Regions from separate parts of the Homo sapiens genome. Here all the other regions are linked to region 1. Evidence: fine-mapped expression QTL. A gene starts in region 1. Each other region holds a variant in brackets. All regions are shown on one strand. Distances are between the middles of the regions. Region 1 holds the start of CHMP4B (charged multivesicular body protein 4B). Region 2 overlaps CHMP4B (charged multivesicular body protein 4B). Region 3 overlaps ZNF341 (zinc finger protein 341).

What was found. PIP is the estimated chance that this variant, and not a neighbour inherited with it, causes the effect. A credible set is the group of variants that fine-mapping cannot tell apart.
Region 2: its variant is the best candidate, but not a certain one, in a credible set for the expression of CHMP4B in putamen (GTEx, PIP 0.88).
Region 3: its variant is the best candidate, but not a certain one, in a credible set for the expression of CHMP4B in whole blood (INTERVAL, PIP 0.64).

What each region holds. Positions count from the first base shown.
Region 1 is chr20:33,806,955-33,815,221 of GRCh38, reverse strand. CHMP4B (charged multivesicular body protein 4B) reads right to left here and starts at 3,874. Exons shown (of 5, transcript NM_176812.5): 1 at 3,564-3,874. The coding sequence starts at 3,753. It overlaps ZNF341-AS1 (ZNF341 antisense RNA 1), which reads left to right and starts at 4,123. Exons shown (of 4, transcript NR_110623.1): 1 at 4,123-4,182. RefSeq lists enhancers at 2,581-2,650, 2,479-3,319, 4,086-4,165, 3,905-4,199 and a silencer at 3,746-4,025.
Region 2 is chr20:33,828,778-33,836,777 of GRCh38, reverse strand. The region is part of intron 1 of CHMP4B (charged multivesicular body protein 4B); the gene reads right to left. Among named protein-coding and RNA genes, the nearest start is that of CHMP4B, 21 kb to the right of the region's middle. The variant T/C (reference allele first, on the strand shown) is at 4,510.
Region 3 is chr20:33,741,800-33,750,071 of GRCh38, reverse strand. It overlaps ZNF341 (zinc finger protein 341), which reads right to left. Exons shown (of 15, transcript NM_001282933.2): 3 at 4,773-4,969; 4 at 1,000-1,149. Among named protein-coding and RNA genes, the nearest start is that of ZNF341, 14 kb to the right of the region's middle. The variant C/A (reference allele first, on the strand shown) is at 4,697.

The DNA of each region.
Region 1 (8,267 bases):
TGCGTAACATATTTTCATCCAATCAGGCAGATACTAGTACCCTGATTTGTGGAGGAGGAATCTGAGGTACAGAGTAACCTGCCCCAGGTACCCAGCAAGGAAATGATGAAGCTGCAGCTCAAACCCAGGTCTGAAAGGCACTATCCTTGCCCCTGATGGGATTCTTGCCTCCAGTCCCTTCCTGGTCAGTCTACACTTCTTCCTTTAAGCTGCTGCTAGAGTGCTCTTTCAAAATTCCAAACAGATATGATGACTCTCTGCTTTAAAAGCCAGCCAAGGGCTGAGCACAGTGGCTGTAATCCCAACACTTTGGGAGGCTAATACGGGAGAATCGCTCGAGGCCAGGAGTTTGAGACCAGCCTGGGCAACAGAGCGAGACCTTGTCCCTACAAAAAAAAATGTTTTGAATTAGCTAGGCATGTGCCTGAAGTCCTAGCTACTCAGGAGGCTGAAGTGAGAGGATCATTTGAGCCCAGGAGTGCCAGGCTGCACTGAGCTATAACTGCACCACTGCACTTCGGCCTGGATGTCAGAGCAAGACCCTGTTGCTTAAAGTGAATGAATAAATAAAAATAAAGGACAGCTAAGGGCTCCTCACTACTTCCAGGTCAAGGTCCAAAGACTACAGGCCACTCTCAGTGTTATCTCCTGTCCCACCCACAGACTCCAGAGGCGACACTGTCACTGCCTCCCAAACACACCCAACTCCTTGCTGACCCACCTCACGTTCTCCTTCCTCTGCCAAGTCTTCTTTATCCTTCCCCCCAAACAGGTGCCGCCTCCTCTGCAGCCTCAGCCCATGTACACACTCATGTTTCTGCACTGTTATAATCATTTCCTGCTCTCTCACACGCACATACACTCCCACCCCACACTTCCAATTCTGAGTTCCTGAAGGGCTGACACAGTGTATTTTCATCTCTGACTCTCAAGGTCCCAGCATAGTGGCAGGTGAATAAGCAGACTAACTGAATGGTAATGTGGTAGTGTTCACCTCCCCACACTAAGACCTTCCTCCTAGAGGATGCTAAAAAGAAGGGTAGGTTACAGTAGCTCCCATCCTCTCAAGCAAACTCAGGGAGACAGCCTGCCTTCAGCAAGTCTGACAACTGAGATTGGTCCTCCACAGTTGGCTGGCGAGCTCTCCTGCAGCCCCTTGAAAGTCAATTCGATCGCCAAAACTGCAGAAACGGCTGGGTGCGATGGCTCATGCCCATAATCCCAGCACTTTGGGAGGCCGAGGCAGGCAGATCATGAGGTCAGGTGTTCAAGACCAGCCTGACCAACATGGTGAAACCCCATCTCTACTAAAAATACAAAAATTAGCCAGGCATGGTGGCGTGCACCTGTAATCCCAGCTACTCAGGAGGCTGACGCAGGAGAATCATTTGAACCCAGAAGGCAGAGGTTGCAGTGAGCTGAGATCGCACCACTGCACTCCAGCCTGGGCAACAGAGCGAGACTCCGTTTCAAAAACAAACAAACAAACAAACAAACAAAAAAACAAACTCCAGAAACTAAGCTAGCTCCAGACCAAAAGATCAGAGGAAAATGGTAAACTGACACCCTCCTCCTGCATTCCAAAATGCAGAAAGCTAAAAACACTGATTCTGATGACCATAAACAGAGGATCTGGACTGAGGGAGAGTCATCAGAGGAAAAAGCTAGAGACAGCAAAATATAACCCTGTTCCCATCTCCACAACTAAGCTGGAGTCCAAGCCACAAATGGACCACTGCAGCTGCCTCCTCACTGTTCTCCCTGCTCCCACCCGCATCCCCCACCCACTCTCCAAAGAGCAGCCAGATGATGTTTTAAAAACTCTGTCAATAAGGACACGTTCCAACAAAATACTCTCCAAAAACTTTCCATCCACTTGGAATAAAATTCAAACTCTTCACCAACAGGTTCAAAGTCCAAGCCCCGCCCCCTTTATTCCATACCACTCTCCCTCCAAGCACTACATTCTGGACACAAGGGTCTCTCTCTTCGGTTTCTTACAACCTGCTAACCTCCGAGCCTTTTCCCATGCTGCTTTCCACGCCCAGAAGGCTCCTCCCCCTTTTTTTTTTTTTTTTACAGAGCTGGTTCCTTCTCCAGACTCAGTTCAAACTTTACCTTTTCAAAGACGCCTTCCCTGACCATTCTATCCAAAGTGGCATCCCTCCCACTCCACCACTCCCTATCAGACCATCTTTTTGTGTGTTTAGTACTTATCACCCCCGGACAATATTTTCTTCATTTATTTTCCTGTTTCTGTCTTCTCTCCCATTAGGGTTGAGGCCGTGTTTTGTTCACCCCTATGAATACAGCGCATGCAGCAGGCACTAAAAAGAATTTCCAGAATATCTGTTGACTATCAGCAGAGAAGCATCCTCCAGATAGGCTATTTTGTTCTCCTATTAGAATGGAGAAAACATCGATTTAGCCCCTACTATGTGCTGAGCACTGTAAATCCATGATTTTCCTTTCAGAAAGGTAAATGAGCTCAAGGTCGCACTGCTAGTCACTAGCAGACTTCTGAGTGAATTACCTCAATCCTAAACCCCTCTCAAGGGGAAGGGATGTCGTTCTGTGATTCACTCTCACATGGCCATAACAAGAAAAAGCAAACATTTCTAAACTGCTTTACAGTTTTAAAGCATTTTCACATTCATCTCACTTAAGAAAAACACAAAGCACTTGGAATGCCCAGAAAGCCATACGACAACAGGAAGTAAAGTAAGCAGTGCCTCAAGATTCAATACTGGGGCCCTGAATCCTAGTAGTGGGGACTGGGGAGCAGTCGGGAGTCTCTATTTCTGGTTCAGACGGATGGGGAAGCGGTGAGTCATGGGGTGAAGGCTTGCGCCACGGGAAACTTTGGTAAGGTCAAGCTACGAGGCAACAAAAAGTGAATCACAACGCTGGAAAACACCTTAGGCCTCAACAGAGGCCGAACTCTGGCTGACGGATGGGGAAACTGAGGCCTCAAAGGGAAAGCAACTTGCTCAAGTTCACTCAGCAAGTGAATAGAGCAGGAATCGGGGGTCTCATCTCCCCCAGTCCCCTTTTCTCTCCAGCAAGGAGGCTTTTCAACGAGAATTCTGAGACAAGAGGACAGGGGAGAGGCCAAGGGGCAGCTCACAGATTCCACCGAGGAGTCGGGAGAGGGCACAGGTAGGACCAGGAAGCACAGAAATGCTAGGATGGGGGCAGAAATGAGCCGAGGAGGAGGCAGGGGCAGTAGCTAGGCAGGTGGGTGAGGCGAGAAGGAAAAGGCGGAAGAGAAAGGGACAGAGTGAGGGCGGAGGAAAGTGCTGTGAGATTGGGGTCTGAAGGGACCTGGCGGGGTGGAGAGAGGCTGAGGGGAGAGGGCAGAATAAGTCTGACGATGGAAAAGTCCAGGGATCGGGGAGACATTGAAGGGAGTCGGGGAGGGGGTCCCAGACCCGGCAAGAAGTCTGACCCGGAGAGTTCCAGGGTCAGACCAGACCCCGAGGCGAGTCTGATGAAGGTGAAGTCCGGGCCCGGGGAGCCTGGGGGGAGCCCGTGGCAAGTCTGAAGGGGCCGGGCAGCCTCACCGCGCTTGTTTTTGGTGCCGTGCTTCTTGGCGGCCGTCAGCTCCTGCTCGATTTTCTTCTCCAGGAACTCCTGTTTCTTGCTTAACATCTCTTCCGTGTCCCGCAGCCGCTGGATGGCCTCCTGGGGGGTCGGGCCGCCCTTGCCGGCCTTACCCCCTCCAGCCCCGAACAGCTTCCCGAACACCGACATGGTTGCTGCTCGCCGCGCCGGCCTTCGCCGCCCGCTCCGGCTCGGCTCGGCTCGGCTCGGCTCGGGTCGGCTCCGGCGCCCGCTCCCAGTCCCGCCGCTCCCTGCCGCCGCAGGCCTCTCCTCCGCCTCCGCCTCCGCCCCGCAGCTGGGCCCGGCCGCGCCACCTCCCACAGGCCCCCACGCCCGGCCCGGCAGGCGTCAGGGCAACGCGCCACTGACTACAACTCCCAGTGGGCAACGCGCCGGCCGCGCCTCAAATCTAATAGGGGGAAGCGTGCTGCATGCCGGGAAGCTATAGTCTTCCGGCTTCAGGCGCTCCCCGGCGCGTCTTTTGCTGTAGCTGGGGTCAAAGGGCGTGTGGCATTCTGGGAAATGTAGTCTCCTTGGCCTGCGCTCTGTAGGAGTGGCAGAACAGTAAGAGAAATGACAGTAAGTGTGCAACACTGCTCAAAAATTTATTGCTAGTATGGGATACTGCCATGCTTGAACTTCACATGTATATTCATGTGAAGTTGTCTTAAAAGCGTGAAGGCAACAGTTGTTTCCAATTTCAACCTGTCAATTCTGTGGTCACAGAAGCAAAGCAGTATCTTCTCCAGTTAAGTACGGTAGTGTCCCCCTTATCTGAGATTTTACTTTGAGTAGTTTCACTTGGCCAGCTAAGGTCTGACAGTATTAAATAGAAAATTCCAGAAATAAACAGTTCATAAGTTTTTAATTTCCATTGGCCTAATGAAATCTCGTGCTATCCTGTTCCATCCTACCTGCAATGTGAATCATCCCTTTGTCCAACATACCTCTACCATCTGTTAGTTACTTACCAGCTTAGGAGTTATCAGATGGACTGCCACGGTGTTGCAGTGCTTTGGTTCGAGTAACCCTCATTTTACTATATAATGGCCCCAAAGTGCAAGAGTAGTAATGCTGGCAGTTTGGATATGCCAAAATGAAGCTGTAAAGTGCTTCCTTTAAATGTAAATGTGGAAGTTCTGAGCTTAAGAAAAAAAATCGTATGCTGAGCTTACTGAGGTCTGCAGTAAGAACGAATCTTCTAGCCCTAGAATTGTGAAAGAGGAAAAAGAAATTCATGCTGGTTTTGCTGTCGTACCTCAAACTGCAAAAGTTACAGCCACAGTGTGTGATAAGTGCTTAGTTAAGATAGAAAAGGCATTAAGTTGTATCCTTACTTACAGGGGAAAAAAAGAAAATAAATTTTTTTACAAAAGAAAAGAAAAAGCATTAAGCTTATACGTGGAAGACACGAACAAAAAATGTGTTCCAACTGACAGCAACCTGTTACCCCCCAGAAAGCATTGAGCCTGTATAAAGGCTTCAGCAAGGAATCTCCTAAAACCAGTGGCACCAAGCCACTTACTGAAAGTAATGGATGGTTGCACTGACTTAGGAATAGGTTTAGACTGCAAAATATAAAAATTACTGGATGGGCTGGGCACAGTGGCTCACACCTGTAATCTCAGCACTCTGGCAGGCCTAGGCGGATGGATCACCTGAGGTCAGGAGTTTGAGACCAGCCTGGCCAACGTGGTGAAACCCCATCTCTACTAAAAATAAAAAATAAAAATAAAAAAATTAGCTGGGCGTGGTGGCGCACGCCTGTAATCCCAGCTACTTGGGAGGCTGAGGCAGGAGAATCACTTGAACCTGAGAGGCAGAGGTTGCAGTAAACTGAAATCGTGCTATTGCACTCCAGCCTGGGCGAAAAGAGCAAAATTCTGTCTCAAAAAGAAAAAAAAAATTACTGGAGCCGGGCGCGGTGGCTCACGCCTGTAATCCCAGCACTTTGGGAGGCCAAGGCGGGCGGATCACGAGGTCAGGAGATCGAGACCATCCTGGCTAACAAGGTGAAACCCCGTCTCTACTAAAAATACAAAAAATTAGCCTGGCATGGTGGCGGCGGGTGCCTGTAGTCCCAGCTACTCTGGAGGCTGAGGCAGGAGAATGGCGTGAACCCAGGAGGCAGAGCTTGCAGTGAGCCGAGATTGCGCCACTGCACTCCAGCCTGGGCGACAGAGAGAGACTCCGTGTCAAAAAAAAAAAAAAAAAAAAGGCCGGGCGCGGTGGCTCATGCCTGTAATCCCAGGACTTTGGGAGGCCGAGGCGGGCGGATCACGAGGTCAGGAGATCAAGATCATCCTGGCTAACACGGTGAAACTCCATCTCTACTAAAAATACAAAAAAATTAGCCAGGCATGGTGGCACGCGCCTGTAGTCCCAGCTACTCAGGAGGCTGAGGCAGGAGAATGGCGTGAACCCGGGAGGCAGAGCTGGCAGTGAGCCGAGATGGCACCACTGCACTCCAGCCTGGGCAACAGAGCGAGGCTCCGTGTCAAAAAAAAAAAAAAAAGTTACTGGAGGTTGGGTGCGGTGACTCACGCCTGTAATTCCAGCATTTTGGGAGACCAAGGCAGGTGGATCGCTTGAGCCCAGGAGTTGAGGCCAGCCTGGGCAACATGGCGAAACCCCATCCCTACAAAAAATACAAAATTTAGCTGGGCATGATGGCACAGGCCTATAGTCCCAGCTGCTCAGGAGACTGAGCCATGAAGATCATCTGAGCCTGGGAGTTTGAAACTGCAGTGAGCTGTGATCTCACCACTGCACTCGAGCCTGGGTGACAGAGTGAGACCCTGTCACAAATAAATAAATAAATATTACTGGAGAGGCTACAGCAAGACAAGTTGGTGGAGAAGGATTTGGGGACATGCTTGATGAAGAAGTGGAAGATCATATTGAAGGCCACTGGGAAGTGTTAACAAATGTGGAATTGGAAGAACTTGTCAAGTCATCTACAAAGAAAGAGGAAAATGAAGGAGAAACAGAAACAGAACCAGCAATATGGGTGTTATCAAAATTTGCCGAGTGTTTCAAATTGCACAGACATTAAAGGACAAAATTATGGAATTCAATCCTCAGATAGAACACAGCATTAAAACCACTCGTGTGGTCACCAAAGGATTACAACTTCTGCAGCCACACTTCTATGAATTAAAAAGAAAGAGGCCAGGCATAGTGGCTAACACCTGTAATCCTAGGACTTTGGGAGGCCGAGGTGGGCAGATCACTTGAGGCCCGGAGTTTGAGACCAGCCCGGCCATCGTGGTGAAATCCTGTCTCTACTAAAAATACAAAAATTCACCAGGCATGGTGGCGTGCACCTGTAATCCTAGCTACTTGGGAGGCTAAGGCAGAAGAATTGCTTGAACCCAAGAGGCAGAGGTTGCAGTGAGCCGAGATTGCGCCACTGCACTCCAGCCTGGGCGACAGAGACTCTGTCTCAAAAAAAAAAAAAAAAAAAAGAATTAAATAGAAAGAGATGGCCAGGTGCAGCGGCTCACGCTTGTAATCTCAGCACTTTGGGATGCTGAGGTAGGCGGGTCACTCGAGCTCACAGGTTTGAGACCAGCCTGGGCAACATGGTGAAACCTCATCTCTACAAAAAATGCAAAAAACTAGCTGGGTGTGGTGGCGCACACCTGCAGTCCCAGCTACTCAGGAGGCTGAGGTGGGAGGATCACCTGAGCCCAGGAGGTTGAGGCTGCAGTGAGCCATGATCACACCACTGCACTGAAACCTGGGCAACAGACTGAGATGCTATCTCAGAAAAAGAAAGAAAGAGACAACTTCCAGTAATAATGTTCTTCCAAAAGTTTTTGGCAAAAACGCAATTATCCAAGGACCCCCAATCATTGGTTGACATCGTCTGATCCTGATATCCAACCACTGACATCGTCATAGCTCAATGATCCAGGATCACCCAAAGCAGATGGTCCTCCTGACATCTCAGATGGTCAGTAGTAGCCTAACACTACCTCATAATGCCTGTGTCATTCACCTTACTTCATCTCATCACATAGGGATTTTGACATCACGCATAATCTCAAGAAGAAGGGTGAATACAGTACAGTAAGACATTTTGAGAGAGAGACCACATTCACAAAACTGAATACAGTATATTGTTATAATTGTCCCATTTTATTAATAGTTGTTATTAATCTCTTACTGTGCCTAATTTATAAATTAAACTTTATCATAGATGTATATATATAGAAAAAACACAGTATATATAAAGTTCAGTACTATTTATGTTTTCAGGCATCCACTTGCAGGTACACCTGAGGATAAAGGAGAACTATTGTATTTGAAAAACAACAATAATTAACATTGATGCACATTCTGTGATTGCACCATCGATGCACATTCTGGCATTGTGCAAAGTGCTGTACATATAATATCACATTTGGCCGGGGGCAGTGGCTCACGCCTGTAATCCCAGCACTTTGGGAGGCCAAGGCAGATGGATCATGAGGTCAGGAGTTCGAGACCAGCCTGGCCAACATGGTGAAACCCCGTCTCTACTAAAAATACAAAAATTAGCCAGGCATGGTGGTACGTGCCTGTAATCCCAGTGACTTGGGAGGCTGAGGCAGGAGAATCACTTGAACCCCAGAGGCAGAGTTTGCAGTGAGCTGAGATTGCGCCACTGCACTCCAGCC
Region 2 (8,000 bases), 22 kb before region 1:
CAGGCAAGGAAAACCCAGGCAGAGCCCAGCAACTTCCTGAATTAATGAGATAGAGCTGAGAGTCTGGGGAGACCAACGCAGCTGGAGTTCATGAGAGTACCTGAGGAGAGAGCTGCATGGAGAGAGAAAACCCTGGAGAGCCACGGAGGGTCCTCCTCAAGTATTCAGCAGAATACTGATCAGCACCCATGTGTGAAAAAGCTATCTAAGGCCAGGGAAAGAACCACTCAAAAGGATGACAGAGAATAAATAATATTAAGTACTCACATGGGGCCAGTCATAGTGCCTCTTCCTCAGCTAGATTAGAAAAGCCTCATAATTCTTCTTGGAGGGCCTTCAGGAGGGCCTTGTCTTAATAGTAGGGATTAACTAGCTCTATACTAGATAAACACTGCTCTGGGCCTGCCTAATAATTCTTAGACCCAAGACCCAAAAGGCAAATTGTTACCAAAAACTTGTGCCCCCAAAACATAAAGAATATAGGACGACAGAAATATTCAGTACCCAACAAGGCAAAATTTACATTTGACATCTAATCAAAATCTACCATTTATGCAAAGAAATGGGTAAATAACACCCATGATGCAGAGTAAAATCAACAAATTCCAAGTAACCCAAACTAACACAGATGTCAAAATTAGCAAAGAGATGAAAACAGTTATAACTATAGTCTATATGCTTAAAAAGCGAAGGAGAAACAGGGAAGATATTTGCTATGGTTTGGATACGGTTTGTTTGACCCTGCCAAGTCTCGTGTTGATATTTCATCACCAATGTCAGAGGTGGGGCCTAGTGAGAGGCATCTGGATCATGGGGGCGGATCCCTCAGGAATGGCTTAATGCCATTCTCCAGGAGTAAGTGAGTTCTTATTCAGTTCCCGAAAGAGCTGGTTGTTAAAAAGAGCCTGGCACCTCCTCCTCTCTCTCTCGCCACACACATAAGCTCCCCTTCGCCTTCCACCATGAGTGGATGCAGCCTGAGCCCTCGCCAGCAGCAGATGCTGGCACCATGCTTCTTATACAGCCTGCAGAACTGTGAGCCAAATAAACCTCTTTTCTTTATACATACCCCAGCCTCTGGTATTTCTTTAATAGCAACACAAATAGACTAAGATAATCTTTTTAAACACCTACATCGAGCTTCTAGAGATTAAAATTATTACATGGATGAACAGCAGATCAGACACTTCATTGATGAAAAGATTTGTAAACTTGAATAGCAATAAAAACTATCCAAAATGAAATACAGAGAGAAAAAATAATTTTAAACATCAGCAGAGCAGCAGTGAGGTGTGGGATAACTTCAGGTAACCTATATACATGTAACTGGAGTCCCCAAAGGAGGAGGGCAGGTGAATAAACATTTCAAGAAATAACGGCCAAAAATTTTCCACTTTGATGAAAACTTTAAACCCACAGATACAAGAAGCTCAATGACCCTGGAGCTTAAGAAACTTGAAGAAGACCACATATACCAAAGCACATCATATTAAAAGTGCTCAAAATCAGTAATAAAATGTTAAGAGCAGACAAAGAAAAAAATATACATTACATATACTGAAATAAAGATGACAAAGATTTCTCATAGAAAACGATGCTAGCAAGAAGACAGTGGAGCAATATTTTTAAAGAATCTCATTACTTCTATCACCTGGGATGGAATTTAATAATTAGGAATCATAGGCCAGGTGCGATGGCTCACGCTTGTAATCCCAGCATTTTGGGAGGCCGAGGCGGGCGGATCCCTTGAGGTCAGGAGTTCAAGACCAGCCTGGCCAACATGGTGAAACTCGTCTCTACTACAAAAATTAGCTGGGCGTGGTGGCGTGTGCCTGTAGTCCTAGTTACACGGGAGGCTGAGGTAGGAGAATCGCTTGAACCCAGGAGGTGGAGGTTATTGCAGTCAGCTGAGAACACGTCACAGCACCCCAGGTTGGGCGACAGAGTGAGACTCCATCTCAAAACAAAAATAAAAATAAAATAAATAGGAATCACGAACAGAAAATCTGTTAAATCCCCACACATTTAGGAACTAAATAATATACTTCTAAATAAGCCGTAGGTCAAAGAAGAAATGAAATGGGAAATCAGAAAGTATTTTGAACTGAATGAAAATAAAAACACAACATATCAAAATTTGTGGGATGCCACCAATGTGGTACCTTAAGGGAACTAAAAGCCTACACTAGAAAAGAACAATCTCAAATGGACCTCAGCTTCCACCTTAACAAGCTAGAAAAAGACCAGCTTGGGACTGAGCAACGTGGCAAGACCTTATTTCTATTAAAAATTTTTTTCAAAAATTAGTCGGTGGCAGGCACCTGTACTGCCCCAGCTACTTGAGAAGCTGAGGCAAGGAAGATCACTTGAGCCCAGGAGTTTGAGGCTGCAGTAAGCTATGATTGTGCCACTGCACTCCAGCCTAGGTGAGAGAGTGATAACCTGTCTCCAAAAAAAAATACAAATACAAATAAAGGGCAAACAAAATCCAAAGTAAGCAGAAGAAAGGGAATAAAGATCGAAGTGAAAAATCAATAAAAGACAAAAAAGAAACAAAAGAGAAAGAAGGTCAATGAAATAAAATTCTGGCTCTTCGAGAAGTTCAACAAGATTGAACTTCTAGCCAGACTGACCAGGAAAAAAAGATTACTGGTATCGAGAATGATAAATGTGATATCACTACAGACTCCAGGAATATTAAAAGGATAAAAAGGGGATATTATGAACAACTTCATGACAATACTAGAAAAGATGAAGCAACTTCATACCAATACTACAAAGGATGCAACGGCTTAGATGAAACAGGCAATTCCTTTGCTCATTCTACTGTACCAGGAATTACACTTTGCTCATGATACCCTGCTAGGGAACTAGGGACAAAAATGATACAGTCCCAAGGCTGAAGGAATTCACAGGCCAGCAGATATGGACAATGTAATACATGACAGAGGTCAGCACAGGACACTTACTGTGGATGCCTAGAGGGGGGAAACTAACCTTTGGGGTTATCATGCATTTTAAAGGATGGTAGGAGAGAGCCCAGAGGAATATATCCAAGCAGCAGGAAAAGAGAGGCATGAGAAAATAGGGGAGGGAACAAGGAAAGATAAAAGCTAAAGAGAGAAACTCAAGGACAGACTTGGATGTCTTGTTAAGGAGCTGCTGGAATCTATCCCAGGGTTAGCAGGAAGCCATTGAAAGATTCAAAGCAGGACAGGAACGTGATCAGATTTACATTTCAGAAAGATCCCTCTGGCTGCTGTGGGGAGAAGGGGCTGGCAACCACTGCAATAATCCAGAGGGTGTGGATTTCAAGAGCCTGAACTGAGGCCACAGCAGAGGGGCTGACCAGGAGAGGGTGAACTTGAGAGATACCAAGAGGGAAGACCATGGGCCTGTATCACCTGTTTGAATGTACAACAGAAGGAAATGGAGACTGAGTCAGGAATAAGTTCCAAGTTCCTGGCTGGGGCAACCAGGTGGTGGAGATGCCATTTCTCAGAGAGACCAGTAACTCAGGGAAGAGAAGATAAGGCAGGGAGGGAGAAACTATTCTCCCAGATCTTTCTGTGGGGCCATGGGCTTCAAAATTCAAGTTAGCACCTGAAGTTTGAATTAACCTTCTCTAAATCCATATGAGGAAGATGGAGTTCAGGGACTTCAGAGTGGGTCAAATCCAAATCACTTCTGGCTGGCCGTGGTGGCTCACACCTACAATCCCAGCACTTTGGGAGGCCAAAGCAGGAGGTTCGCTTGAGGCCAGGAGTTTGAGATCAGCCTAGGCAACATAGTAAGACCCTGTCTCTACAAAAAAAAAAAAATTTTTTTTTAATTAGCCAGGCATGGTGGTGCACACCTGTAGTCATAGCTATTTGGGAGGCTGAGGCGAGAGGATTGCTTGAGACCAGGAGTTTGAGGTTACAGTGAGCTATGATTGCGCCAATGCACTCCAGCCTGGGCAACAGAACGAGACCCTGTCTCTTTAAAAAAAAAAAAAAAAAATCATTTATTGTAAAACTATAAAGAGCACAGGATTCAAAGGTAACCTAATTACTACCATTCATACATGGGCGTGTCTCAGGAGAATACATAGGTATGGTACATGTTTTTAATTGCAGAGACTACCTCAGGGCCTTGTAATTGGTCATTTCTAGGAAGGGAGTGACTGAGGCAACGAAGGCACTTTTAAAATTATGTACCATTTACATGACTACCTAATCAAAACAAACAAAAACAACAGCCTATTTCTTCCTCATCCCCAGACATGGAAAGACAGTTATATTTTAAAAAGCAAATCATTTACTAAGAACAACCTGATTATGACTGGCACTGGCGCTTTGGTGTGGCCCTCGGGTGGAATGAAGGCACTGATTGAGCTCCTCCCCCACCCGCCAGGTCCCAGGCTGGATGCTCTTAGCCAGGCTTGCTGAGAGGTGACCAGGTTCTTGGCTGGGACAGAGGGGAAACAGCCTGCTTTGGGTTTCCGTTCCCAGGCTGGGATGCACTCTT[T/C]CTTTTCCGACTGGCTTTTCTTCCTCTGCTTCCAGCTGAATCCATGCCAACAAGGGCCCCCTTCTGCCTGAGCAAGCATGAGAGCACCCTGGCAACCGAGATGACAACGGAGGTATGGGGGCTGGGGACGTTTGTGGGGAAGTTGGGAAGAGAGTGAAATGCCGGCAGAAAAATACTTCCAATGTGCGCGCTTGTTAGAAAAGCAAGGCAAGAGGGAAAACCCAACCAGCCTTTTATGCTTTTGGAATCAAGAGAGACATGATGAAGGGGTTGCAGACAAATGATTTTCCTTGCCCAGGAGGCAGCAAGGGGTGAAGGGCACAGGAAGCTGATTCTCTTTCGGGAAAAGGTAGTCTTGCCTTGTCCTTAAAAAATGGGGCACAGGTCAGACACGGTGGCTCACACCTGTAATGTTATGTATACCTTAGCGCAATTAAAAAACAAAAACAGTCTGGTTCATGGGTTTGTTATCCGATCTTCCCTGCTGAACACTGTCGATTACAACTGTATATGTGAAAATAATAAAATTAAAGAACAAACTCCAAACTGCACAGAATTACCAGACACTGAAACACTGAGAGAACATAATCTCTGAGGCCAGGTGCAGTGGCTCATGCCTGTAATCCTAGCACCTTGGGAGGCCAAAGCAGGAGGATCACTTGAGGCCACGAGTTCAAGACCAGCCTGGGCAACATAGCGAAACCTCATCTCCACAAAAATTTTTAAAACTTAGCTGGGCAGCCAGGCACGGTGGCTAACACCTGTAATCCCAGCACTTTGGGAGGCCAAGGTGGGCGGATCACTTGAGGTCAGGAGTTTAAGACCAGCCTGGCCAACACAGCGAAACCTCATCTTCACAGAAACTTTTAAAACTTAGCTGGACGGCCGGGTGCAGTGGCTCATGCCTGTAATCCCAGCACTTTGGAAGGCCGAGGTGGGCGGATCACTTGAGGTCAGGAGTTCGAGACCAGCCTGGCCAACATGGTGAAACCCCGTCTCCACTAAAAATAGCCAGGCGTGGTGGTACGTGCCTGTAATCCTAGCTACTCTGGAGGCTGAGGCAGGAGAATCGCTTGAACCCAGGAGGTGGAGGTTGCAGTGAGCCAAGATCACGCCACTGCACTCCAGCCTGAGTCTTGTGACAAAGCTATCTGGAAAAAAAAAAAAAAAAAATTAGCTGAGCATAGGCAGTCTCAGCTACCTGGGAGGCTGAGGTGGGAGGATCCCTTGAGCTGTGGAGGTCCAGGCTGCAATGAGCCATTTTCATGCCAGTGTATTCCAGCCTGAGTGACAGAGCAGGACCCTGTCTCAAAAAAACTAAAAAAAAAAAAAAAACTCTGTTCCTTTGAACAATTAATTCACAGTGCTAGATTATAATCTGATTGTTTAGAAAATAATGTAAAGAAAGGAATGTCAGAAAGCAGCCTCCCTACCAAGAAAAACAATACCTCACGGGTCCTAAAGTAGTCAATCAGAAAACAAAAAGCTAAGGAGTGCTATGGACTGACCTGTATCCCCCCAGAATTCATATGCTGAAGCCCTGGCCCCAGTGTGGCTGCATTTGGAGATGGGGCCTCTTGGAGGTCATTAAGGCTAACTGACATCACAAGGATGGGGCCCTAATCTGACAGGACTATTAGCCTTATAGGAAGAGAGACGCCCCCGCTCTCTATCCACTCCCTGCAATGCACAACACACACTCCACAGAAAGGCCATGTGAGGACACAGCAAGAAGGCAGCTGTCTTCCAGCTGGGAAGAGGGCTCTCACCAGAAACGGAATTACCCAGCACCTTGACCATCGACTGAGTCTCCAGAACTGAGAAAATAAATTTCTGTTGCTTAAACCACCCAGTCTATGGTATTTTGTTATGGCAGCCCAAGCTAACTAACACAAGGAAGATAAGCACTATAGATGTCCAAGCCATTCAAAATCTTTCAGCCTGGCCACAGTATCCCCCATACCCTCTTGCTGTAGGGCTTTCAGGTCCCTCCCCTGAGATGATCAACAGCCTCAGTGTCTCTCCCACCCAGCGCCTTGCTTTTCCTGGCTCCATATGCTGAGGGAACCACCAAATGCTTCTGCCACTCCTTTCATCTTCCTCTTCACCACCACCCTCTCCCAGCCAAGCTTCCTTCCACATCCTGCTGAGCACTCCACCAGAATGTCTTCATTCTCCACCACACGTGAGACCTGGTTCTGGTTCCAGCTCTGCTGCCAGTCAGATCTGGTCAAATCAAAGTCTGTTTCCTCATTTGTAAAATGGGAGTGGGGGAATGGGCCCAGATGATCTCTCAAGTCGTTTATATTTCCCAGACCCAGTAACTCATCAGAACCTGAACAAGATTCAGCCAGGCAGAGCCATCTGCCCTTCTTCCCTTCCTATCTACTATCTACTGTCTGTCTACACATGTACCAAGATGTGGTTCTATAATGCTCAGATGTCCTGTGGTGTTATCTCTTCAGGCTGACCCTACATTAGGCACTGGTCTTAAACTATCTCCGGAGACTCTCTTTAAGGAAAGGGATCACCATGTGTCTACTCTGGATACAGCCTCCTCCTTTCCTACCAACTACAGAGCTGTACGTGCATATATTAGCCAATTAAAAGAAAATCTAAAACTTATTTCTCATACATGAAAATGATCAGGAAAGTCTTTCTGGGGTCTGGTTTCACATAAGAAATTGAAATTTTTAATTACTCAACCAAAGAGGGCAAAGAAAGAAATTCAGGCCAAAATTAATTCACAGATTTGTGGCCTTATAGCCTTAAGACCCAATACAGAAGGGAAATCAGTTCCTTAGAGCCTAGGGGCCAAAGAAAGGGAGGGAAGTGTCTCTTATTTTTGCCTGAGTTTGTTTCTGCTTCCCAAGGGAAAGGCAAAGCTGAGCAAACACCACAGATGGGCATTCTCGGCTGGGCCTGCACCTCTCCAAGTACCCAATGTGGTCTGAGAATGCAAAGAACTGGCTGAGAAGGGGCTGAAGTTCATAATCTGGTCCCTTTCCTATGTTTATAAACAGAGAGAACTGGGGAAAATTCTGTGTCTACATAAATACCACACACCCTCCTCTCTCCCAGCAAGAAGCAGCCTCTCTCCTCCAAGCTTCCTCGCAGCTCTTCTCGCTTTCTCCCTTGGATTCAAGTCATAATCCCTAATGGGCTGTGAGCCCAAGACAGAGGCCAACAATTCTTCATTTCTGTACTCCCAGCAATACCTAGCACTGTGCCCTGTACTACAAGGTGTTTGGGAAACATGTTGAATGAGTAACAGAAGGATAAATGGCCTCTGAGATTCTAAAAGGGGCCAGAATAAACAAATATTGTTCTCTTCTCAAGTCCTAGACTGCTATAAACCCTCCAGACTGCTGAGTGCTGGAATGTTCTCATATCTTGATCTATGTGATGGTTACACAAGTGTATACATTTAAAAAACTCATTCAGGTGTCACCTGAGACTTATCTGCTTACTATACGTTATACCTCAACGAA
Region 3 (8,272 bases), 65 kb after region 1:
CACTTGTTAAGAATAAAAACAAGGCTGGGCGCGGTGGCGCACACCTGTGATCCCAGCACTTTGGGCCAAGGCAGGTGGATCACCTGAGGTCATGAGTTTGAGACCAGCCTGACCAACACAGTGAAACCCCATCTCTACTAAAAATACAAAAATCAGCTGGGCGTGGTGGCGCACACCTGTAATCCCAGCTACTCAGGAGGTTGAGGCAGGAGAATTGCTTGGACCTGGGAGGTGGAAGTTGCAGGGAGCCAAGATCGCACCACTGCACTTCAGCCTGGGCAACAGAGCAAGACTCTGTCTCAAAAAAAAAAAAAGAACAAAAACAAAAGTCAGGCTGGGTGCAGTGGCTCACACCTGTAATCCTGTAATCCCAGCACTTTGGGAGGCCAAGGTGGGAGGATCACCTGAGGTCAGGAGTTTGAGACCAGCCTGGCCAACATGGTGAAACCCCGTCTCCATTAAAAATACAAAAATTGGCTGGGCACAGTGGCTCACACCTGTAATCCTAGCACTTCAGGAGGCTGAGGTGGGGGGCTCACTTGAGGTCAAGAGTTCGTGATCAGCCTGATCAACATGGAGAAAACCTGTCTCTACTAAAAATACAAAAAAAAATTAGCTGGCTGTGGTGGCACATGCCTGTAATCTCAGCTACTCAGGAGGCTGAGGCAGAAGAATCACTTGAACCCAGGAGGCAGAGGTTGCAGTGAGCCAAGATCGTGCCACTGCACTCCAGCCTGGGCAACAGAGTGAGACTCCATCTCAAAAAAAAAAGTCAAAATAGCTGCACTGTATTGACAAAGCCCCACATGTTCTGGGTCCCCACCTAGACGTAGCAGCTTCCCCATCTATAGCAGAGCTGGACAAGGGAAAGCTGATAGCCTCCCTCAGCATCAGGGAGAGCTGGGGCCAGGCCCCCTTTATTCTACAAGATTCTGAATCTGCAGGAGTTAATGTACAGGTCTGGAATCAAGACCCTGTGAGAAGCCCACACCTTCTTACCTGCACAGGTGGGGGGCCCTGGGGCATGGGCTGGTCCAGGGATGTGAAGGCTGACATGGCAGACATGAGCACATCATCGCTCACCAAGATGTTCCCCTGCACCAGGGTCTGGATCAGTGGGGACGGGGGCACTGTGATGTATGTGGAGATCTGGACAGTGGGAGAGAGAGAATGAGTGAGACGGAGAGAGACAGAGTGTGTGTGTGCTCATGTGTGCGTGTGTGCATGTGTGGACATGTCAGGCTCTGTAAGTAAGCCGAGGGCATGGCACAAAAGATCCAGGTTCTGGAATCCCACAGACGTGGATTCCATTTCTACCTCTGCTGCTCCCTGCTGTGTGACCCTGGGCAAGTCACTCTACCTCTCTGTGCCTCCATTTAATCATCTACTGAATGAGGATGATAAGACTGGGCACGGTGGCTCACAACTATAATCCCAGCATTTTGGGAGGCTGAGGCAGGTGAATCACTTGAACCCAGGAGTTCAAGACCAGCCTGGGCAACATGGTGAAACCCTGTCTCTACAAGAAAAATACAAAAATTAGCCGGTGTGGTTTTGCACGCAGCTGGTGTGGTTTTAGAGACTCTGTCTCTAAAAACAAACAAACAAAAACGGAATGAAAGAAAAAACAAATGAGGAGAATAACTCACATCCCTCTGCAAAGTACATACCCTATGACTCAGTAATAATACTTCCTTGTATCAGCCAGGCATGGTGGCTCACGCCTGTAATCCCAGCACTTTGGGAGGCTGAGGCGGGCAGATCACGAGGTCAAGAGATCGAGACCATCCTGGCCAACGTGGTGAAACCCCATCTCTACTAAAAATACAAAAAGTAGCTAGGCGTGGTAGTGCGCGCCTGTAGTCCCAGCTACTCAGGAGGCTGAGGCAGGAGAACCGCTTGAACCTGGGAGATGGAGGTTGCAGTGAGCTGAGATCGTGCCACTGCACTCCAGCCTGGCGACAGAGTGAGACTCCATCTCAAGAGAAAAAAAAATACTTCCTTGTATCTATGCTAGAGAAACACTGAACACATGTCCACATGAAGTCCACAAGTATCTTAGGTCAAGAAGAATATCTGGTGTGGCACGGTGGCTCATGCCTGTAATTCCAGCACTTTGGGAGGCCAAGACAGGCGGATCACTTGAGGTCAGGAGTTCGAGACCAGCCTGGCCAACAGTGAAACCCCATCTCCAATAAAAATACAAAAATTAGCTGGGCATGGTGGCGGGTGTCTGTAGTCCCAGCTACTCAGGAGGCTGAGGCAGGAGAATCACTTGAACCTGGCAGATGGAGGTTGCAGTGAGCCAAGGCCAGCCTGAGCGACAGTAAGACCTTGTCTCAAAAAAAAAAAAAAAAAGGTAAGAGATGGTGAGGGGAATATTTTCTACTAGCAAAACTCACAGTCAAGCAGTGAGAAAAATGACTGTGTTTTTTTTTTTTTTTTTTTTTTTTTTTTGAGACGGAGTCTCGCTCTGTCGCCCAGGCTGGAGTGCAGTGGCGGGACCTCGGCTCACTGCAAGCTCCGCCTCCCGGGTCCACGCCATTCTCCTGCCTCAGCCTCCCAAGTAGCTGGGACTACAGGCGCCCGCCACTACGCCCGGCTAATTTTTTGTATTTTTAGTAGAGACGGGGTTTCACCGTTTTAGCCGGGATGGTCTCGATCTCCTGACCTCGTGATCCGCCCGCCTCGGCCTCCCAAAGTGCTGGGATTACAGGCGTGAGCCACCGCGCCCGGCCAAAATGACTGTTTTATGCCAGAAGATGCCTGTTTCAGTCTATATGTCCTATGGGTCTGGGGTGAATGCTTTCATAGTGATGGCAGAAATGACACCTATACAATGAATGAAGATAATGTTCTAAAGGGATAAGGAAAGAAAAGGAAGCCAGTTGAAAATCTGACCCCTTGACCTGGCATCCTGAGATATGCCCAGCCTCCTTTATGAGGGATCCTTTAGTCTTTCTATGAGCCCCCTATCCAGGGTGTCTTTGCTCCAGAACCGTGTTTTCGGCTGAGGACTCTGGAAGCTTCCCCAGATGCCTCCAGCCTTGTCCTCTGCTCTGGCCTCCGGACTTGGAAATCTACATTGTCTACTTTGTCACTGCCTCCGTTTAAAGGTTGGCAGGCATCTCAACTTCAACGTGCCCAGCTGAACTCCTGACATCCCCCCAAAACCTTCTCCTCACAGCCTCCTCCCTTCAGCTAGTGGCAACTCTAAATCAGGAGTCCTCTGTGACCCTTCTTGATCTCACACTCCTCACCCAATCAATTCACAAGTTCTATCAGCAACACCTTCAAAGTATTTCTAAAATCTCACACTTTCTCACCACCTCCACTGCCAACATGCTGGTCAAGCTACCCGCATCCACTGCCTGGATTTGCACTACAGTCCCTCAACGGGTCTCCTGGCTTTCTCTCTCACCCTCCCTCAAAACCTATTCTCTGTCCAGCAGCCAGAGTGACCTGATAAAAGTCACTATGTCCCTCCTCTGCTTGACAGCCTCCAATGGCTCCCATGTCATTCTCAGTAAAAGCCCCAGCGGCTGGGTGTGGTGGCTCACACTTGTTATCCTGGCACTTTGGGCGGCCGAGGCGGGGAGATCACAAGGTCAGGAGATCGAGAATATCTTGGCCAACATGGTGAAACCCCATCTCTACTAAAAATACAAAAATCAGCTGGGCGTGGTGGTGCGCGCCTGTAGTCCCAGCTACTCTGGAGGCTGAGGCAGGAGAATCACTTGAACCCAGGAGGCGGAGGTTGCAGTGAGCCGAGATCCTGCCACTGCACTCCATCCTGGGCAACAAGAGTGAAACTCCGTCTCAAAAAAAAAAAAAAAAAAAAAAGGCCGGGCGCGGTGGCTCACGCCTGTAATCCCAGCACTTTGGGAGGCCGAGGCGGGCAGATCACGAGGTCAGGAGATTGAGACCATCCTGGCTAACATGGTGAAACCCCGTCTCTACTAAAAATACAAAAATCAGCCTGGTGTGGTGGCGGGCACCTGTAGTCCCAGCTACTTGGGAGGCTGAGGCAGGAGAATGGCGTGAACCCAGGAGGCGGAGCTTGCGGTGAGCCGAGATGGCGCCACTGCACTCCAGCCTGGGCAACAGAGCAAGACTCCGTCTCAAAAAAAAAAAAAAAAAAAGGCCCAGACCCTACACGATCTGCCAAGACCCTCCTGCTGCCTCTCCTAGCACCTCCCACCTTCCTACTTACTCAGTCCCAGCCACTCTCACCTCCTTATAGTTCTGGAACAAACCCAGCACACTCCTGCCTCAAGGCCTCTGCATCTGCTGATCCCTGCACCTGGCTCCTGCTTCCTTCCCCAAACCAGCCGCATAACTCATTCCCACACCTCCTTAGGTCTATCTGGTATGTTCTTCCTACTTATTTAAGTAACTGCGGAAATTATATAGTACTATTGTTTCAGATTTTAAAAATAATAATATATTATCTACTTATTATTCTACAATTTGATTTTTCATACAAAACCTTTTACCTGCTATATAGTATTCTTCCTGGTCACCTCTTCACAGAGCTCTTCCCCAAGCACGATAGACAATATGGCAAAACCTCCCATCCCCGTCTGGCATCCCCTATCTCTCCGCATTTAACATGCTGAAAACAGTACATGTGCACCATCCATCTCGCCCCACTCCACAAGGGCAGGGACTTGGTCTGTCTTATCCATTGCTATAG[C/A]CCCAGTGCCCAGCACAGTGCCTGAGCATGTTAGGCCCTCAAAAAAGACATGTTGAATGAATAAATGAACAAATACCTGGCGATTGGCAGGAGTTGGGGCCTGCTGGACCGCTGTGGGTGCTGCCGAAGGTGGGTAGATGCTGTTGGTGGCCAGTGAGACTGTGGCCAGGGCGGGGGCATTCCCCTGGCACTGTTCCCGCTTGTGGGTCATAAACGCTGGCAGCGAGTTGAATTGCTTCTTACACTTCCCGCAGAGAAATACATCCTCGTCATCTGGGGTCATACCCGCAGAGTAGTGGGAAGAGGCCACAGATGAAGGTAAAGTAATGAAAAAAAAGCAAGACTATGTCAAGGGGCATCACAGTATGAGACAGGAGAACTGCAGCTGACCACAAGCAGCAATCTGGGGGGCATGCTGCGACTTGACATGCAGGTGTCAGCCATCAACTATGTGCTTCCTGGGAGTTTTCGAAGCCACACAGGTGGCCAGGCACAGTGGCTCATGCCTGTAATCCCAGCACTTTGCGAGGCCTTGGAGGGTGGATCACCTGAGGTCAGGAGTTCAAGATCAGCCTGGACAACATGGCGAAACCCCATCTCCACTAAAAATACAAAAATTAGCTGGGCATGGTGGTGCGCGCCTATAGTCCCAGCTACTCGGGAGGCTGAGGCAGGAGAATTGCTTGAACCCAGGAGGCAGAGGTTGCAGTGAGCCCAGATCGTGCCACTGCACTCCAGCCTGGGCAACAGAGCGAGACTCCATCTCAAAAAAAAGAAAAAAAACCACACAGTTTCCTGCAGGGATAGCCATATGTGGCCAGGTACCAATTAATTAGAAATCAAAAAACAGTAAAGTATGTTCACTACAAAGTTGAGAACTCCAGAACCTTTATCCTGTCTGAATTTATTCATCAGTCCCCAAATGAGCCACCTGATCATACTCCTCCCATGCCTTTGCATCCACCGTTCGCCCTGCCAGGCTGCCTCTCTGAGGACAACTTGTTCTGCAAGCCTCAGCTTGACTGTCACCTCTTCCAAGAAGTCTTTTTTTCTTTTTCTTTCCTTTTCTTTTCTTTTTTTTTTTTTCTTTCTGAGAGAGAGTTTCACTCTTGCTGCCCAGGCTGGGGTGCAGTGGCACAATCTCAGCTCTCTGCAACCTCTGCCTCCCATATTCATGCGATTCTCCTGCCTCAGCCACCCCAGTAGCTGGGATTACAGGCATGCGCCACCACGCCCGGCTAATTTTTGTATTTTTAGTAGAGACGGGGTTTCACCACGTTGACCAGGCTGGTCTCGAACTTCCTGACCTCAAGGGATCCACTCACCTCAGCCTCCCAAAGTGCTGGGATTACAGGCGTGAGCCACTGCACCGACCTCTCCAGGAAGTTTTTCTAAAGCCAGCGGCTATAGTTCCTTCCTCTGGCACACCTATCATATAACAGTTTTCTTATCAACACCAGACTGTGAGTCCCCTAAGGGAAGGACATGTGTCTTATTTATCACCATAACTACAATATCTCCTGGACACAGAGGAGGTTCTCAATGGACGTTTGTTGAATGAATGAAAAACTAAATGAATGATTAACTACAGTTAACACCATCCATTGCTGAGGGCCTACCACAGCTATGCGCTCACTGTGTCAAGCACCCAACATGTGGTAGCAGAAATGTCTAATTGTTATTCAATTCTAATTGTATCCTTTTTTATTTATTTATTTTTTTAAGAGACGGGTTGCCAGGCGAGGTGGCTCACTCACACCTGTAATCCTAGCACTTTGGGAGGCCAAGGTGGGTGGATCACTTGAGGTCAGGAATTCATGACCAGCCTGGCCAACATGGTGAAACCCCAGCTCTCCTAAAAATACAAAATTAGCTGGGCATGATGGTGCATGCCTGTAATCTCAGCTACTCAGGAGGCTGAGGCAGGAGAATTGCTTAAACCCAGGAGGTGGAGGTTGCAGTGAGCGAGATCACACCACTGCACTCCAGCCTGGGCAACAGAGCAAGACTCTGTCTCAAAAAAAAAAAAAAAAAAAAAAATTGGGCAGGGTGCGGTGGCTCACGCCTGTAATCCCAGCAGTTTGTGAGGCTGAGGCAGGCGGATCACCTGAGGGTCACGAGTTCGAGACCAGCCTGGCCAACATGGCGAAACCCCGTCTCTACCAAAAATACAAAAATTAGCCGGGTGTGGTGGCAGGTGCCTGTAGTCCCAGCTACTCAGGAGGCTGAAGCAGGAGAATCACTTGAACCCAGGAGACAGAGGTAGCAGTAAGCCAAGATCATGCCATTGCACTCCAGCCTGGGCAACATGAGCAAAACTCCGTCTCAAAAAAAAAAAAAAAAAGAGAGAGACAGGGTCCTGTTGTGTTGCCCAGGCTGCAGCACAGTGGCTATTCACAGGCATGATCATAGTGCACACCACTCTCAACTCGTATCCTTCTTATACAATAATACAAATTTCAGTGGGAAACATGGCTTCATAGTTAAATAATATATTTCCCAGGCTTCTCTGCAGCTAGGAATGTCATGTGACAGAATTCTCACCAATGGGACAACAATAGAACTGTACCGTATCTGCAACTTCCTCATAAAAGGAAAAGGAAAGGGCATGGACAGGGCACTGTGGCTCATGCCTGCAATCCCAGTACATTGGCAGGCTGAGGTGGGAGGATTGCTTGAGCTCAGGAGTTCAAGACCAGCCTGGGCAGCACAGAGAGACCCTATCTCTATTTTTTTTTTTTAATTAAAGAGAAGTTTTTTGGCCAGGCATGGTGGTTCACGCCTGTAATCTCTGCACTTTGGGAAGCTGAAGTGGGTGGATCACCTGAGGTCAGGAGTTCGAGACCAGCCAGGCCAACATGATGAAATCCTGTCTCGACTTGGCCGGGCGGTGTGGCTCACGCCTGCAATCCCAGCACTTTGGGAGGCCGAGGCGGGTGATCATGAGGTCAGGGGGTTTGAGACCAGCCTGACCAACGTGGTGAAACCCCATCTCTACTAAAAATACAAAAATTAGCTGGGCATGGTGGCGGGCACCTGTAATCCCAGCTACTCAGGAGGCTGAGGCAGGAGGATTGCTTGAACCCGGGAGGCGGAGGTTGCAGTGAGCCGAGATCGCGCCACTGCACTCCAGCCTGGGCGACAGAGCAAGACTCCATCTCAAAAACAAAACAAAACGAAAGGGTATGAATTCCACTTCCCTCTTTCTTCCCTTCATGTTGGCTGGAATGTGCCAATCAAAGTGGGAGCTAGAGCAGCCATCCCGGGCTGCAGCTCGAGGGCAGTAGAGCCACAGGAAAGAAGGAGTCTGAGTCTCACCATGCCCACCCCAAATGCCCAAATGCCCATCAGGACTTCGCGTAACACAGAAACAAACTTTAATCTTGTAGAAACCATGGTAAACTTCAACAGCTAGAACCAAATCCCAAGTACTCTCATAAGATTCCTATGAGGCAGAACAATTGTCCCTATTTTACAGGTGTAGGAACTGAACCACAGAGAAATTCACTCACTTGCCCACGGTCACAGAGCTAAGAACTATAAGAACAATAATTCAAACCCAGCCATTTATCTCCC